Linked DNA regions of Homo sapiens. The protein of the gene in region 3 purifies or fractionates together with the protein of the main gene of each other region. This does not show direct contact. Each region holds a gene or a part of one and is shown on either strand. Other genes may lie near its edges. The genes, in order: API5, MAPK13 and DRG2.

Region 1 (3,651 bases), on a different chromosome or scaffold from region 3:
TGGGAAGCAAAGTAAAAGACCATAACAAACATGTTAGAGTGTGCTTTAAATTTTTACACAGGCTAAGAAATAAAGCTGATTTTGGGAGGTTTACTGCTCAAACTGACACTTACCTTCCCAATTCCGTTCTCCCTCCATCTTTGTTTCATTTTTGAGTTGGGGGAGATGGATGAGTCTAATTTTAAGTGGAAAAAGCAAATGTGTTTGTTAATATGCCAATACTTCTTCATTCTAGTGATTATTAACTCTGGCCATGTGACTGTATCATGCTTAAAAAATTTGTAATGGGCCAGGCGTGGTGGCTCACGCCTGTAATCCCAGCACCTTGGGAGGCCAAGGTGGGTGGATCACCTGAGGTCAGGAGTTCAAGACTAGCTTGGCCAACATGGTTAAACCCCGTCTCTACTAAAACACAAAAATTAGCCAGGCGTGGTGGTGTGCGCCTGTAATCCCGGCTACTCGGGAGGCTGAGGCAGGAGAATTGCTTGAGTCCGGGAAGCGGAGGTTGCAGTGAGCTGAGATCGTACTACTGCACTCCAGCCTGGATGACAGAGTGAGACTCTGTCTCCAAAAAACAAAACAAAACAAAACAAACAAACAAACAAAACAATTGTAATGATGGCCAGGTGTGGTGGCTCATGCCTGTAATCTCAACACTTTGGGAGGCCGAGGTGGGCAATCACTTGAGCTCAGGAGTTCCAGACCAGCCTGCCCAACATGGTGAAACTCCCTCTCTCTAAAAATACAAAAATTAACTGGGTGTGGTGGCAGACATTTGTAATCCCAGCTCCTCAGGAGGCTGAGGCAGGAGAATCGCTTGAACCCAGGAGGCAGAGGTTGCACTGAGCTGAGATCGCACCACTGCATTCCAGATTGGGTGACAGAATGAGACTCTATCTTAAACAAGTAAATAAATAAATCATCATGAATACCATAGAATTCACAAAGAATTGCACTGTATTTACTTAAACAAAAATTTACCTGTTTCTAATTAGCACCTTGAAGAAGGTGAAGGGAATACATTCCAGAAATTTAGCAATTCCAGCAATGTTAGGAAGTGCAGTTTAATTTTACCTCATAGCAGTATATGAAAGCCATGACAATTCACTCCATATAGCCAGACAATTTTGGATTAAGACGGACTCTAATGTCACATGTTTAAACCTTTTATTGGAACAATACACTCAAAGCTCATGTTTCCTTAAAAAAAAAAATCACAGGTGCTCTCCCTCAAATACTCATAATGGGAGGAATCAATAAGTTCCCAATCCTCCTTAAGTACTTGCCTCCAAACCAGTCCTTTTATGAAATGACACTGATAAAGATGGTAAATAACAGTAACAAATACAGAAAGACTACACATATATATTGTTTGGACATATGAATAAAACTTAGTAACTGGAAAAACAACTTAAAAATTATAATCTTGACCAAACATATACACAGTATAGTATTTATTATGTATAAGGAGTGTTCTAAGTGCTTTAGACACATGAGCTTACTTCATGCCATCAAGCGGGGAATGACCAATAAATATCCAATGAACTACAGAATTACCAAATTTATTTTACAGTGATTCTTTTTTGTTGATAATGCTATGTTAAGTGAAAAAATAAAGCAGGATGCAAAGTTACAGAACAACTCCCAAATAACAGAAATTTCTGTGAATAAGGTTAACTTCTTCATGAAATGCAGATATATGAGTCTTCAGGAGTCATCACTGAAAAGTGTATTATAAACACATCAAGACCCTGTCTCTCCAAAAAATATAAAATTAACCAGGCATGGTGGTGTGTGCTTGCAGTCCCAGCTACTGGAGAGGCTGAGGGAGGAGAATCACTTGAGCCCAGGCGATAAAGGCTGTGGTAAGCCATGGTCGCGCCCAGGAGTTAGAGGCTGTGGTAAGCTGTGGTCGCGCCACTGCACTCCAGCCTGACAGAGCAAGACCCTGTCTCAAAGAAAGAAAGGTATATGACATACTTTTCACCGCAAACATTAAAAAAAGAAATCATGCTGACTTCTCTACCACTTTACATTCCTGTGGTTTGCCTCAGACTTCTAGGCAGGCTTCATAAAATCAAAGTTTGTTCTGACACCCTTACTTTTTGCAGGGTATCACAAATCTAATTTTCTTTAACTCAAACTTACTCATAAAGCCATTTGAAGAAACTCCTTACACTGTCCAAAATTAAATGAAAAAAAAAAAACCCTGCTTAAAACAAAACTTCCTTTTGCCAAGAAAAAAATATTAAATCTGGAATCAAATAAAAAGGAATCATTAACAATATTTATTGAAGGTCTACCAGGGACTGAGTGATTCCTTGTCTATATCACAATAGGTGTTACTACTATTCTTATCTTTTAGATGAGGAAACTAGGGCTCAGAGAAGTGAAATAAATATTTCCACATATTTTTGAGGGATTACGAACTTGGTTGGTCAGTGGTTTTAGCTTAATCATACAAAAAACCCTACTACAAGAGTGGTTATTTCATGAAATAAAAGTCCAAGAAGCCTACACGCCAACCCTGCAAAGCTAGTATACTCAATGATTGAGAGAACAGGAGGAATCAGGGTTTCAGCATTATACAGATCTAATCAGCCCCACTGCCATGGTCCTTTAACAGGTGTCGGATACATTTTTTAACTTTTAAGATTTTGACTACATAATATAAAATTAAGTATCTATATTTAAAGTAAGTAAATTCATAATAATTTGAAACAGAATTTTAAATAATGGTGGGCCACAGCTTGCTCTATTATGGCTAGTCAGGAGCCCTGGGCAGAGTACAGTGGAAAAGGAGATCAGAAAGGTAAAGGAGCACACAAGAGAAGAGTGAGACCTGAAGGAGTAGCAGAGGCAGAGTGGGGGAAAGGCAGGATGAACGCATAGGCAGAACATGGCAGTTACATGAGAAGATGATAGGACTGGAAGATTTGAGGTATTAAATAATTCTGCACTTAGAATTTGTCATCTGCAGTTTGCTTATTAGAATATACATGCTCATATATGTATGTATGTGTGTGTGTATGATAAAGTTCCCTTTATCCATTAGAGATAATCTGTGTAAATGGTTTTTCTTTTCTTTTGTAAATGGTTTCTCTGTTCCTTCTTCCAATACATTTCTTCAACTATGAAAAAGAAATGCTTACTGAAGGGCAAGGTACAGTGCAAGAAGAGAAGCAATAAATAAATAAATAAATAAATACATAAAAGGATTTAACCCTTGAGACGTTATAATTTAAGTACAGAAATAAATAAAATAAAATACAAGTCTGAAGCATTATTAGTAAGTACATCGTACCAAGGGGTTCAAAAAGAGGATTTGATCTGCTTTGGGGAAATTAGCCGATAAAACCTCAGACGGCTTGTAAGTTTACCCTTATATATTTAGAAGGCACTACTCTGAAAGGAGTATTGACAATAATGGGGAGGGAATAGTCTGTAGTGGCAGCAATCAGAACACCTGTAGTGCTCACCTCTCTGGTAAAGGTTGATAATCAAAGTAAAAGTTAGAAGGAAGTCAAGACTGACAAACTTGAATGCAGTCTCAGAAGTATCCAGACAGGTATTTGCCAGGAAACTTAGTACTGATCATAAATCTCTCATAAGTTGACATGAAAATCAGGCTTTGCTACATCAAGAACATGA
Region 2 (3,651 bases), on a different chromosome or scaffold from region 3:
ATAAAGTGTCTGTTGAAGGAAGGAATCCCTAGATGGAGTTTGGCTTTTCCAGCAAAGGATACAATCTTTCCCCTTGAACAGAGTTTTCCCTGTCAGCATCTCTGCCATGATACAGCCCACAGACCAGATGTCCACTGCAGAGGGAGGGAGAGTGTCACCTGGACTGTCTGGGGCCCAGCAGTCAGTCAGCACCGAGTGACCAGATGGCCCCAGGACCGCCCTCTCAGGCATTGACCACTGACCTGTCTGGTTGTAGTGCATCCAGCTGAGGATCACCTCGGGGGCTCGGTACCAGCGGGTCACCACGTAGCCAGTCATCTCGGCGTCTGCATGTCGCGCCAGCCCAAAATCCAGAATCTATGGCACAGGGGATAAATAGAAAAGGAACTTGCTGAGGGGAGGAGGCTCTGGGAGCGGCTTCCAGGGGCTTCCCTGGGGGAGGGCCTATCCCGCCTCTGGGCTGAGCCTGCAGCCCACTCACCTTCAGTTCACAGTCCTCATTCACAGCCAGGTTGCCTGGCTTCAGGTCCTGGGGGGAGGACAGAGAATGCATGCTAGGCTGAGGCAGAGATGGAGCTTGTCCTAGCTCCACCACCACCCAGGGGTGTGACCTCAGCCAGGCCCCTTCCCCTTCTGGGCCTCAGTTTCTTCATGTGTAAAATGAGGGTTGGACTAGGTGTTCTCTCAGGGCCCACCCAGCTCTAAAATGTTCCTGATTCTTGAAGCCTGAAACACTCAGCTCAGGGCTCACTTTGTCTGCAGCAATTCCCCATGAAGTCCCCTGGGACACAGTGACTCTTTTGAGCAGGCCTTCCTGGGCCGTGGCTGGGTGTGAAAACTCCACATTCTGTGCTCCTGGGCAGTGTCCCCTCCCTCCAACTTTCCCACTCCTTGATTGCCAGAGAACCCCATACCCAGGGATGGGACAGGGGCCTCTGAGGACCATGGCAGAGAAAGCACTCACCCTGTGCACGACCCCAGCAGAGTGGATGTACTATGTGGGAGAGAGAGAAGGGTGAGTCCATGGCCCAGCTTCCACACCAGGCACTTCAGGCTGGCCGACCTGTAACAGTGCGCTCCCTCCAGCCTCCCCAAACCTCAGGTCTAGACAGCAAGGCGTCCCCTCTGCCAGCCTCCAAGTCCCCACCCACCTTAAGGCCTTTGAGCATCTGATACACCAGGTACTGGATCTTCTCCTCACTGAACTCCATCCCCATGATCTTCTGCAGATCCGTCTGCATGAAGGGCATCACCAGGTAGCTGGAAGGCATGAGGGGTTCTTGGAACAGTGCCGGGTCCCACCCAGCCCCAGGTCAGAGCTCAGAGGAGGGACCTCAGGGCAGAACAGGGGTCATAGAGACACCCTCCAGTGTGCAAAAACTCAACTCCACCTCAGCCAGCCAGATCACCACACGGGCCTCTGGGCTCCTGGCTCCCAGTCTCCCTGTGGCGGGCCGCCCAGCTGGCAGAGCTCGGAGTAAGCGCTGCAGTTGGAGCGCGCTCAGGAAAGCCACATGGAACTGTGTTCCCGCTCTTCAAAGGTACTCTCTCCTTGCCCTCCTCCACACCCCAGGGAAAGCCACAGCTAGGAGTTAGAAACATCTGCCAGTATTTCCTTCGGCTTCTGTCCAAATATTTGATCCCTCAGAGGGTCATGCCCAGCTGAGATGGCTCCACAAACAAACAATATGTCTACCTTTCCAAGAAGGAAACAATACAACAGTTTCCAGGAGGGTGGAAGAGGGAGATGGGGAGGCTCCTGCAGCCTCTTAGGGGATTGCACAACAGGATAAGGCCAGCAAAATGTAACTGTTACAGTAAAAGCAAAGACCAGGACAAAGACAAAAAATAATAAAAATTATAAAATAGGCCAGGGGCATACCTCCAATCCCAGTGCTTTGGGAGATGGAGGCTGGACGATCGCTTGAGGCGAAGAGTTTAAGACCAGCCTGAGCAACATAGGGACCCATCTTTCTTTCTTCCTTTCTTTTTTTCTTTGAGATGGAGTCTTGCTCTGTCGCCCAGGCTAGAGTGCAGTGGCGTGATCTTGGCTCACTGCAACCTCCACCTCCCAGGTTCAAGCGATTTTCCTGCCTCAGCTTCCCTGAGTAGCTACAACTACAGGTGCACGCCAGAACGCCCAGCTAATTTTTGTATTCTTAGTAGAGACGGGGTTTTGCCATGTTGGCCAGGCTGGTCTCGAACTCCTGACCTCAGGTGATCTGCCTGCCTCGGCTTCCCAAAGTGCTGGGATTACAGGCGTGAGCCACCATGCCCGGCCTGGACCCCACCTTTCAGAAAAAAAAAAAAAAATTAGCCAGGTGTGGTGGCATGCACCTTTAGTCTTAGCTACTCAAGAGGCTGAGGTGGGAGGATCACTTGAGGCCGGGAATTCGAGATCAGGATGAGTAACATAGTGAGACCCCATATCTATAAAAATTAAAACAAAACAAAAAGCTGGACATGGTGGCATGCATCTGTAGTCCCACCTACTTGGGGGGCTGAGGCGGGAGGATGGCTTGAGCCTAGGAGTTGGAGGCTGCAGTGAACTGTGTTTGTGCCACTGCACTCCAGTCTGGGCAACCCAGCCCTATCTCTAGAATATAATAAATTTAAAACTTTTTTAAAATGAATGTTACCTTAAACAATTATGTAATAGGTTGTGTTTTTTGTTGTTGTTGTTGTTGTTGTTTTTGAAAGGACATGCTGGAGGCATCTCCAGGAGACTCTGGATTTTGGCAGCCCTCTCCTGCCGGACCACACACCTCCCTTGGGGGCCTCTCCATGCCCAGTCCCCTCCTGTGTCTTTCCCCTCCACTCGGGCACTGGTTCTTTCATCTTGGCAACATGCTTCCTGAAGCCTCTCTGTGCTAGAACCACATTCCCTTGACTTTGCTTCTTCAACTGACCACCCCTTCTCCCTCTCTCACCACCAAACTTCTAGAAAGGGCGGTCCACACTCCTGGATCCCACTGCCTTACCTCCCAGTCCTGAGTTAACCTGGTTTCTGCTTCCCTCCTACTGCCAGACTGCTCAGCTCAAGGTCACCAGTGAACACCCGACAAACACACCATGACTCCCTTTTCTTCTGATCTAACCTTTCACCAAGTCTGAAACTCCCTCTCAATTCTTTGCTGACTCTCCTCTGCCTCCTATCAGGCCCTCTCAGCTTCTTCCATCTGCTCATCCTCTTGGATCTTCTCTTTCATGTTGATATCTGAATCAATACTATCTTACCACATTCTACAATTATCTGTTCCCGGGTGTCAGCTATAACCCATCGGTGATTATTCCAGCACAAATCCACATCCCTAGCCCAGACCTTCGTCTCCTGAGGTTCATATTTATTTGCAACTGTGATTAAACATTGGAATGTTCACAGTTTCTTTAAAAGTAAAGTGTCCAAAATGGAGTTCGTTATCTTTCCCCCAAGATCTGTTCTTCCTCTACCGTGTATTTCAAGCAGGAACCTGCCCATTCCTCCACCTCTGCCACCTCACTCAGCTACTGCACCCCAACAGATGGAACATTGTGTCGGCCCTGCCTCCCAAATGGGGCCTCAAGTCTGCTCTTGGCATCCCATCACCTCTGCTTTAGATCCCTACTTTAGATCACTAACACTGACCTCCAGGCTCTCCCCCTCTGCCTCCG
Region 3 (3,651 bases):
AGTCCTCCCTTCTCAGCTTCCCCAAAGTGCTGGGATTACAGGCATGAGCCACCATGCCCAGCTGCAGAACCCATTCTTGACCATTTCTTACTGCTATCAATTCACTGATTCACTTGGTAAAATATTTCCTGTGTGCCTGGGCCCTGTGCTGGAGGCTGGGGATCCAGTCCCATTTCCTGACCTATCGGAGTCAGGGAAGTAAAGAAATAAGATCATTTTCAGAGTCGAGAAGACAGTAAACCTGCTCATGAGGCAGGAAGCAGTCTGGGGAAGGGCGGAATTTACTGTAGATTATAGCCAACTTTTATTGGGTGCTTACTGTATGCTAAGCGATGTTCTTAGTGCTTTCTGTAAGACTTCTCCATTATTCCACCATCAAAAATCTGCTGAAGTATGGTCAGGCACAGTGGCTCACGCCTGTAATCCCAGCACTTTGGGAGGCCGAGGTGGGTGGATCACTTGAGGTCAGGAGTTTGAGACCAACCTGGGCGACACGGTGAAACCCCGTCTCTACTAAAAATACAAAAATTAGCCAGGCATGGTGGCACCAGCCTGTAGTCCCAGCTACTCGGGAGGCGGAGGCAGGAGAATCTCTTGAACCCAGGAGGTGGAGGTTGTAGTGAGCTGAGATCGCACCACTGCACTCCAACCGGGGTGACACCAGTGAGACTTTGTTGGTGGCTCACACCTGTAATTCCAGCATTTTGGGAGGCCAAGGCGGGCGGATCACCTGACGTCGAGAGTTCGAGACCAGACTGACCAACATGGAGAAACCCCATCTCCATTAAAAATACAAAAAATTAGCTGGGCATGGTGGCGTGTGCCTGTAGTCCCAGCTACTTGGGAGGCTGAGGTAGGAGAATCTCTTGAACCCTGGTGGCAGAGGTTGCAATGAGCTGAGATCACACCACAGCACTCCAGCCTGGGCGATACAGTGAGACTCCATCTCAAAAAGAAAAAAAAAGAAATCTGCCTAAGAAGTTACTACTGTTAATAACCCTATTTGCAGATTAAGAAACTGATGCACAAGAAGACTAACTTTTCCAAAGTAAAATGGCCCCACTAATGGCAGGGTGGAGTTCTGACACAAGCTCTCACTGCCCTCTGAGACTGGGCAGGGGAGGCCTCTTTGAAGAAGTGACATTTGAGCTGCACCTCAAATGATGGTAAGGAGCCAGTTCCAGGAAGATCTCGTTGAAATGGAGAGAATCGCCAGTGTGAAGGTCCCAAGGAAGGAATGATGTCAGCATATTCTAGAAAAGGAAAAAAAGAAAGGCCAGGCCCAGTGGCTCAACCTGTAATCCCAGCACTTTGAGAGGCTGAGGCAGGAGGATTGCTTACAGCCAGGAGTTCAAGACCAGCCTGGGTAACATAGCAACATCTCATCTCTACAAAAACAATTTTTTTAATTAGGCAGTCCTGGTGGTATATGCCTGTAGTCCTAGTTATTCAGGAGGCTGAGGCAGGAGTTCAAGACTAGTGAGCTATAATCGTGCCACTGAACTCTAGTCTGAGTGACAGAATGAGACCCCCATCTCTTTAAAAAAAGAGGAGAAAGCAACTGTGTCTGGAATGTAGCAGAGTGTGTTGAAGTAGCCAGGAGCCAGGTAACATAGGGTCCTGGTTCTCAGTCTCAACGACGGCCTCCTTTTAGAGCAAAGAGTTTGTAACACCATTTACAGTCCTGAAATGAAATTCCCCATCAGTAATATAACTTGAATTTGAAAAAAACCAATATAATACCCTAATAGTAATATAAAGGAGAAGAAGAAAAAGGAAAGTAATTTATAATGAAAATGGTATTTATTTAAATACATAAATGCTGGAGTGCTGCCAGGATCTAACGAAGTTACCCTGAAGCAGTAGAATGCTCATGCCTCTAGGTAGAATCACTGGGGATGTGACAGCCACGATGCAGGTGTGTTGTATTGGCCACTGAGTTACACCCCAAGAGGGGCTGCCATGGCAGCGTGGGATCCCAGAATGGTGAGCAGCTCTAGGTAAAGTTTCAGACAAAGCATGACATAGTCTTCCCTTCATATACATAATAGTTGCATTCCTGGGAATTTCAGTGTATATTAACACTGTACAAAATGTCCTGTGTTTATATGTAAACAGAGCTAGGTTCTAGGCCTGGCGATCCTAACCCAGGTTTTCCCTCTGTGGATGCCTTTGGGATGTGACAAGTCATGGACTTGGGATAATTCTCCTCAGCTACATAGGACTGACTCACCTAATAGGGCAGCTGGTTTCCCTGCCCCCTGCCCAATAGATGCCAATGCGTACTTCACCATCAAAGTGAACAGAAAACATCTCCCAGAATTTCCAGAATGCCCCCCAGGAAGCGGTGCCCCCTCTGTTGAGAACCATTGGTGAGAACCATTTGGTGAAGTCTCAACAAAGAGGCGGGATTTTTTTTTTTTTTTTTGAGATGGAGTTTCACTGTTGTTGCCCAAGCTGGAGTGCAATGACGTGATCTCGGCTCACCACAACCTCTGCCTCCTGGGTCAAGTGATTCTTCTGCCTCAGCCTCCCAAATAGTTGGGATTACAGGCATGAACGACCATGCCCAGCTAATTTTGTATTTTTAGTAGAGACAGGGTTTCTCCATGTTGGTCAGGCTGGTCTCGAACTCCTGACCTCAGGTGATCCACCCGCCTCGGCCTCCCAAAGTGCTGGGATTACAGGCGTCAGCCACTGCGCCCGGTCTAAGAGACTGGATTTTATCTTAAATGAAGTGAGAAGCCAAGGGGGCCTTTTAAGCAGAGAGATTTTTTTTTTTTCTCCTGATCTCCTTGACAGCAGTTGCTTCCCAGCCAGCACTTGGCGACATGTGGGCCCTGCCTGACCCCTGGGCTTGGACACCCTGGCCACTCATCTTCTGTCTTGCTTTCCATCCTTTAGCCACTGAGTATCATCTGGGCCTGCTGAAAGCTAAGCTCGCCAAGTATCGGGCCCAGCTCCTGGAACCGTCCAAATCGGCCTCGTCCAAAGGAGAGGGCTTTGATGTCATGAAGTCGGGTGATGCCCGTGTGGCGCTGATTGGATTTCCCTCTGTGGGTAAGGTCAGTGATGGTCAGTGTGGGCCTCGGGGAGGAAAGCAAGAAGTCATCTTTCAAACAGGTGACCATCCAGGCTCCCCTCGCTGCCTTTCTGCTTAGCTCCAGGGACACAGAAGACCTGGCCTCCCCCAGGGTCAGATCCCAGCCCTTTATCATCCTAACATGGAGGACGCTCTTTCCTCTTGCCAGCAGATGGAGCCCTACTTGGTCTTCCGACTCAGTCATCACACACAAATACTTCTCGAGTGTGTATCTCTAGCGGTGTCATGTGCTGGGCACTGTGCCAGGGACTAGAGACATAGCATGAATGAGACAGAGCTCTGTCCCTGCCCACATAGATCTCCCATTCTTGAAGAGAAAGGACAGTAAATAAGTAATAAGGTGCATCCAGTGGTGAGGAGTGGGGGCTGGTGAGTGACAGGGTGAAGGTCTGCTAGTTACGACAGGTCCCGGCAGGTTTCTCTGGTGAGTGAGTATTTGGGCAGGGGCCTGAAGGAAGTGAGTGAGCTTGCAGAGTCCTGGGTGAGAACCTTCCAGACAGAGGGAACAGTGAGCACAGGCCCTTAGGCAGGTGCTCGCTTGGTGTGTC

What was found.
Region 1: the proteins of DRG2 (region 3) and API5 fractionate together in Homo sapiens (co-fractionation; one large-scale study listed by BioGRID). This does not show direct contact.
Region 2: the proteins of DRG2 (region 3) and MAPK13 purify together in Homo sapiens (affinity purification with mass spectrometry; one large-scale study listed by BioGRID and IntAct). This does not show direct contact.

The regions. Positions count from the first base shown.
Region 1 is NC_000011.10:43,314,945-43,318,595, reverse strand, and holds part of API5 (apoptosis inhibitor 5), read right to left. Parts: intron 176-3,651; exon of another isoform or gene 114-175; intron 1-113. UniProt on the Homo sapiens protein: Antiapoptotic factor that may have a role in protein assembly. Negatively regulates ACIN1. By binding to ACIN1, it suppresses ACIN1 cleavage from CASP3 and ACIN1-mediated DNA fragmentation. Also known to efficiently suppress E2F1-induced apoptosis.
Region 2 is NC_000006.12:36,133,362-36,137,012, reverse strand, and holds part of MAPK13 (mitogen-activated protein kinase 13), read right to left. Parts: intron 1,261-3,651; coding exon 1,152-1,260; intron 995-1,151; coding exon 965-994; intron 530-964; coding exon 482-529; intron 358-481; coding exon 243-357; intron 135-242; coding exon 63-134; intron 1-62. UniProt on the Homo sapiens protein: Serine/threonine kinase which acts as an essential component of the MAP kinase signal transduction pathway.
Region 3 is NC_000017.11:18,090,909-18,094,559, forward strand, and holds part of DRG2 (developmentally-regulated GTP-binding protein 2), read left to right. Parts: intron 1-2,904; coding exon 2,905-3,065; intron 3,066-3,651. UniProt on the Homo sapiens protein: Catalyzes the conversion of GTP to GDP through hydrolysis of the gamma-phosphate bond in GTP. When hydroxylated at C-3 of 'Lys-21' by JMJD7, may bind to RNA and play a role in translation.